Linked DNA regions of Homo sapiens. The protein of the gene in region 1 purifies or fractionates together with the protein of each later gene. This does not show direct contact. Each region holds a gene or a part of one and is shown in the gene's direction. Other genes may lie near its edges. The genes, in order: HACE1 and EIF2AK2.

The links.
Region 2: the proteins of HACE1 (region 1) and EIF2AK2 purify together in Homo sapiens (affinity purification with western blotting; one study listed by BioGRID). This does not show direct contact.

The regions. Positions count from the first base shown.
Region 1 is NC_000006.12:104,783,362-104,787,194, reverse strand, and holds part of HACE1 (E3 ubiquitin-protein ligase HACE1), read left to right. Parts: intron 1-1,875; coding exon 1,876-2,210; intron 2,211-2,709; coding exon 2,710-2,778; intron 2,779-3,021; coding exon 3,022-3,109; intron 3,110-3,833. UniProt on the Homo sapiens protein: E3 ubiquitin-protein ligase involved in Golgi membrane fusion and regulation of small GTPases. Acts as a regulator of Golgi membrane dynamics during the cell cycle: recruited to Golgi membrane by Rab proteins and regulates postmitotic Golgi membrane fusion.
Region 2 is NC_000002.12:37,101,543-37,105,010, reverse strand, and holds part of EIF2AK2 (interferon-induced, double-stranded RNA-activated protein kinase), read left to right. Parts: 3' UTR 1-3,468.

The DNA.
Region 1 (3,833 bases):
GTTGAGTGAGTGAACTAGGTTTTTGTTGATTGTAGTAGTGGTGGTTTTGTTGGTTTTGTTGTGTTTTTCTGCTTTTTGGTTGAACGTGTAAATGAAGGCCTGAGGTGATTTAATTATTTGCAAATTCAGTAAGTAAAATATTTTCAAAAAGAGAATATTACAGAAATCTGAAGAAAGGCTGAAAGTGGCAGTGAAGGTATTTGTTAGATAATAATTGGGAAGAATTTCCTGGCAGAATAGTTCAAACATTTTCTAAGGTTCCAAATATGGTTGTATAATCTCCTTCCATGGCGGTCTTTAAAAGAAAGATTATTTCTTTCCTTGAAATATTTTAAAGGTGAGTCTTTCTGTAGCACATGGTGTAGTTTGTAGCATTCTGTAATCATGTCAGATTCAAAAAGTGAGATAAACTTTTATATTTATTTGCAGAAGGATAGCTAATCATTCTCAATAAGAATATTTAAAATAGTGTAGGATGAAGGGATTGTTTAACCACTGTACCACTTATAAACTATTAATCTTTATTTGGGATTAAAAATATCCTAGCAGGTTTTTTTTTTTGTTTGTTTGTTTGTTTTTTTTTTTTTTTTGGAGACAGTATCTCACTCTTTCACCCAGGCTGGAGTATAGTGACATGATCACAGCTCACTGTAGCCTTGACTTCCGAGACTCAAGCAATCCTCCCCCTTCAACCTCCTCAGTAACTGGGACTACAAGTGCATGCCTGTGTACCCAGCTAGAATAATAATAGGAAATAGTTTATTCTCTCCTCATCTTTTTTTTTTTTAATAGAAAGGTGTTAATCTTTACTTGGAATTAAGAATTTGCTACTCAGTATTTTTTTTTTTTTTTTTGAGATGGAGTCTCGCCCTGTCACCCAGGCTGGAGTGCAGTGGTGTGATCTTAGCTCACTGCAACCTCTGCCTCCTGGGTTCAAGTGATCGTCCTGCCTCAGCCTCCCGAGTAGCTGGAATTATAGGTGTGTGCCACCATGTCTGGCTAATTTTTTGTATTTTTAGTAGAGATGGGATTTCAATTCACCATGTTGGCCAGGCTGATCTCGAATTCCTGACCTCAAGTGATCTACCCACCTCGGCCTCCCAAAGTGCTGGGATTACAGGCGTGAGCCACCATCTCCGGCCTGCTAGTCAGTATTTTAATAGAAGTTTGGTAATTGTATCTCTTGTTTTAAAAAAACACTAATTATTAGAAATGGATTGTGTCTGTAAGTATATGTATATACATAAATATGCCACATTTTGTAATTTCTTGTCAAAAATTATCCAAATTCTAGGAATTATATGTAATGAAAGGAGCACAGTAAAAAAGCTGTTCATTAGGTTCTTTAGGGATTCTCATTTTTTAATTGAAAAAAGACATTTGTTTAATTGAAAGTTGTTGACATTGATCATATTAATACAGAAAATGTTGAGTGATTATACTTAGGGGTTCTCATTTTTTAACTGAAAAAATCTTATTTGTTTAATTGAAAGTGGTTGACATTGATCATATTAATACAGTAAATGTTAAGGGTGATTATATATAGTAGTAATGTGTGCTTTTAAAACTAAACATTTGAAAATTAAAAGAAGAAAGATTGTGAATTTTTTGTTAGATTTAGTTTTTCCTTTTTATTACAAGGAATACATACATACAAATTAAATTATTGCCATAAATGAAGAAATTGTCATTTATGTAGCATTTGTATAATTTTATTACTTACCTTTAGGCATTACTATCACGTTAACTTGGGAAGATAGAAATGACTAGAGTAAATTTTCTCTTCTATAATATTTGTCTAGTTGTGTTTTGTTTTTTTTTTTTTAATCCTGTAGTTTAAGAATGATGTTTAAAAAACACTTTTGTTTCTCTCAGCCTCTGGAATTGCTTTGGCACTCGTTAGATGAATGGCTAGTTTTAATAGCCACAGAATTGATGAAAAACAAAAGAGACTCAACAGAGATCACTTCTATTTTACTGAAACAAAAAGGCCAAGATCAAGATGCTGCTTCCATTCCTCCATTTGAACCTCCAGGACCTGGGAGCTATGAAAATCTGTCCACTGGCACAAGGGAATCTAAACCAGATGCTCTTGCAGGGAGACAGGAAGCCAGTGCAGATTGTCAGGATGTTATTTCTATGACAGCTAACCGGCTAAGTGCTGTCATTCAAGCTTTTTACATGTGCTGTTCTTGTCAGATGCCTCCGGGGTAAGAAAGTTTTGGCTTATTATTTTTTTTTTCTCTGATAGATGATGAAAAGCAGTGATACTTTTGTAATTTCAAAAACAACAAATAATAATTTGTTGATTTAAAGTTTTCTCCTTGTTTTAAGATACTCATACTAATCTAGATCTAGTAGGGAATATTTAAATATTAAGCAGTATATATTATTACTTTGTAGAATGGTGAATGTCACCTTGTATAGGATCTCTTAATTATGTATTTGAAATGTGTAGAGCAGAAATGCACCAAATTTCAAGATTTTTAAAAAGTCACTTGTTGATATCGTCTGCTGATGAGAAGTTAGAATCATTTTACAAATTGGCTAGGCATACTTCAGTTTCCTAAACTTACAAAGAAGATTCAAAACCAAATTCTTTTTTTTTTGGTTTAGAAGCCAGTCCAGTTCAGTATATATTTATCAAGTTCGCTATATTATATCACAAACTTTTGCCTGTGTATTCTGATTGATGTTTTCCCCCCACAGAATGACTTCACCTCGTTTCATTGAATTTGTCTGCAAACATGATGAAGTTTTAAAATGCTTTGTTAATAGGTAAGCTTTCTGGGTTTGTGGAGTACCCTGCTAGCCTTTCCTCTCTTTACTTACAGTTTCATCTAAACAGAAAAAATACTATTTCTCGTACTATTCAAAATATGCTCAATAACAAATGAAACTTTAATAGATATGGATTATTATGTGTTTTTCTTCTGTTTCAGTGTCAGTGTATCTGAATTTGCATTTCACTTAATGCTACTCATTCTTCCTGTCCATTTAAACAAAATATTTTTCTTTTAGAAATCCCAAAATTATATTTGACCACTTTCACTTTCTCCTTGAATGTCCTGAGTTGATGTCAAGATTCATGCATATCATAAAAGCACAGGTAGAAATTTTTCTTCATCTTTTTATTCTATCTAATGAAATTAATTTCTAAAATTCTAATACTGTTTAGTGGAATAATTATTACACTTCAGACATTCTGTTGTAAGAGGAATGATTGCATGTTACTTTAATATGAGGAGTAAGTTTTCTTCAAGAAATATGTACTGAGTGCCTACTATGTACAGAGGTCTGTACAAAAACAACAGAACACATTGCCACATTTCCTGAAAGGAGCTTAATGAAACTCTTTAGTTCTATAAGGCTGATTGTCCTTTTGAAAAGGATTTTAGCCCCCAAATACATTTGGGAAATTACATAACATATGCCCTTTGGAAATTTATAAATCACATTGGCAGCATGTTAAAAGGCTTTGAGAAGCCCTTCAGTAAAAATAGTGATTTAGCTTTGTTAATCCTCCTAACTTATTTGACCTGACCACCTTTCCCCTACCAGATGTGTACCTGTTCATTCCATACATCTCATGTTACATGAAGCTAGCTGGAGGAAAGCTTGTTTTGCTCCTTACCAGCTATGTGAACTTTGGGCACGTTTCCTAATATCCTTGAGCCCTTGGTTTCTTCATCTACAAAATGGAGATAATGACAGCAGCCTCATAGAACTATTGTCCAGAATAAATTGTCAGGAATGACTGTGATATATGCTCAATAAATGGTAGTTGTTTTGGAGATAGAAAACTTACTTCCCTTCTCTAAGAGGATTCTAAT
Region 2 (3,468 bases), on another chromosome or scaffold:
GAATAGGATCTTCTACAAGGATTTAAATATAATCCTACAGAAGAGGTATCAATTATACAGGGGAAAATGTACCTTTACAATGGTCACCACAATAACCAAGTGATTCAATTTAGCATCACCCAAGGTGGAACACCCTAACATTATGCCCCTCCTGATGTGACTTAAGAATTTTACCTATTTAGTTTTCTTGCACAAAGTGTTAAACTGGAATTTAATCATGAGGAAATTATTAGACAAATCCTGAATGTAGTCATTCTATAAGATGATTGACTTGGGCTTCTCAAAAAGTCAGTGTCATGAAAAAAAAAAAAAGGGGAGAGACTTGTAAGATACAATGACCAAATGCAATGTTTGAATCTTTATTGTATTCTGGATATTTAAAAAGACAAAAGCTGGACGCAGTAGCTAATGCCTGTTATCCCAGCATTTTTGGGAGGTCAAAAGGGGAGGATGGCTTGAGCATAGGATTTTGAGACTAGCCTGGGCAACACAGTGAGTTCTCATCTCTACAAAAAATCAGAAAATTAGCTGGGCATGGTAGTGTGCATCTGTGGTCCCAGCTACTTGGGGGGGTGAGGTGGGAGGATCACTTGAGCCTAGGAGGTCAAGGCCGCAGTGAGCCATGATCATGTTACTGCATTCCAGCCTGGGTGACAGAGTGAGATCATATCTAAATAATAATAATAATAAAAGAAAGCAACAACCCAGCAAACAGCTATAAAGATATCTTCGGGACAATTGAGAACATTTGAATATAGACTGCATATTAGATAACAATGCCAAATAACTGTTTTCTCAGGTGTGATAATAGTATATGTAGAAAATGTCTTTTTGTTTTGTTTTATTTTGTTTTTGTTTGTTTGTTTGTTTTGAGACAGAGTCTCACTGTGTCGCCCAGGCTGGAGTGCAGTGGCACGATCTCGGCTCACTGCAACCTCTGCCTCCCAGGTTCAAGTGATTCTCCTGCCTCTGCTTCCTGAGTAGCTGGGATTACAGGTATCTGCCACCACTCCAGGTTAATTTTTTCTATTTTTAGTAGAGACGGAATTTCACCATGTTGACCCAGCTGGTTTTGAACTCCTGACCTCAGGTGATTCACTTGCCTTGGCCTCCCAAAGTGTTGAGATTACAGGCATGAGTCACTGCACCCAGCCAAAAATGTTTTTTTAGGCAATGCATGCACAAACATTTAGAGGCCAAGTGTGTCATGATGTCTGCAACTTTCAATGTTCAGCAAAAATCAACATGGAGAGAGAAAGAGGGCACACATGTGGCAAAATATTAGCCATTGTACAATTGGTAAATCTAGATGACAGTACACAGGTGTTTGTTGTATTATTCTTTGAACTTTTCTGTAGATTTGGAAATGTTCTGCGTAGAGAGAAATCTTTTTTTAAAAAAACAATATCTGGTTTTGATTAATGAGGCTATATTCAAAAGAAACACTAAATGATGTGGCCAGTTAGTGAGAATGTAGCCTTATCTTTACTGACCTCATTTTAATATTCCTACTCTGGCTGGGCATGGTGGCTCACGCCTATAATCCCAGCACTCTGGGAGGCCGAGACGGGTGGATCACCTGAGGTCAGGGGTTCGAGACCAGCCTGGCCAACATGGTGAAACCCCATCTCTACTAAAAATACAAAAATTAGCTGGGTGTGGTGGTAGGCGCCTGTAATCCCAGCTACTCGGGAGTCCGTGGCAGGAGAATCGCTTGAACCCAGGAGGTGGAGGTTGCAGTGAGCTGAGATCACGCCATTGCACTCCAGCCTGGGTGACAAGAGCAAAACTCAGTCTCAAAAAAAAAAAAGAAAAAAAAAGATATATATATTCCTACTCTTATTAAATGAATATAGCATTTCTTAGCAACTTCTTTTGATTTGTGAGTATATATTTTCTTGGCCTCAAAATTAAAGTAAAAAGTATCCTCTTACTCAGAGGAGGACAGGGGCAAGAGCCTGGGACCTTATTTGCTAATTAAAATGCACACACACACACACACACACAGAAATTTTGAGAGCCATTTTAATATAATTGCCTCCCTAGAAACATACCTTTTAGGGAATTTTTATCACTAAACCACATGTTATTTAAATACGTACATGTTTAACATAAATACATACATAAAATTCACATGCATACTTAACACTTATGTTAAATATATTCAATGTATATACATATGTACACAATATATGCATATATACATGTGGGTATGTGGTATGTGTGCATGTGTGTGTATGGCCAGCTACATAATTTGTGGGACTAAGGGCAAAATGAAACTGTACGGCCCTCGTTCAAAAATTAGGTGTGGGGTGCTTCTAAGCACAGTCTTGTGCAACTGCACAGGTTGCATGTCCATGAAGCCATCCTGTGTGTGTGCACATATGTGTATGAATATGTATTTTATATAATACATATATATGCATGTATGTATCTGAGAAGAAATGTTTAAAAGGCTACATACAAGCTTTTCCAGGTCTCTACTATCTGTTAACTAACTAGAGACATAACTCACAATATGCAGTCCCCACTGAGTGTTCACCATAATTTGAGATTCTTGGCATGTTAACTTTTCATTATGGAATATTGAATAATTTCAATATTATTCATACATTTCTTTATGTTCAAACATACACAAAAATAGAATAATGAAACTCTACCCATCACCCAGCTGCAACAAATATCAATACTTTACCGTTCTTAATACATCTAACCCCTTACTTTTTGTTTGTTTCTTTTGGTGAAGTATTTAATTGTAATTTTTTTTTTAAGAGACAGGATCTCACTCTGTCACCCAGGCCAGAGTACAGTGGTACGATCACAGCTCCTTGTAACCTCGAACTCCTAGGCTCAAGTGATCCTCCTGCCTCAGCCGCTTGAATAGCTGGGACTACATGCATACACCAACACACCCAACTAATTTTTAAATTTTTTGTAGAAATATGGTCTTGCTGTGTTTCCCAGGCTGGTCTCAAACTCCTGGCCTTGAGAGATTCTCCTGCCTTGGTCTTCCAAACTGCTGGGATTACAATATCCGGCCCTACTGGAATATTTTAAAGTAAATCTCAGGTGTTACATCATTGCACTTGTAAGTACTTTAAAATGTATCTCTAGCAGATAAATCTTTTTAACAAAACCACAGCATCATTGTCACACTCAAAAAATTGACAAGATTTCCTTAATTATCATATAATAGTCTGTATTGTTTCTATCTCAAAAATACAGTTTTCTTGGTTGTTGAAATCTAGATCCAACATTGCATTTGGTTGATGTGTCTCCTTTACTCTGTAAAATTTACCCCTGCGTTTTAGTTCTTTTCGGCTTTTATTTGTCCTGTGGAATTTCCTCCACTCAGGATTTGACTGAGAGTATCCCCAGAGTGTCCAGTTAGACCTAGAAGCTGGATTTGATCCTGGTTCATTTATTTTCCCCCAAGAATACTCCATAGGTGATGCTATACACTTTCTC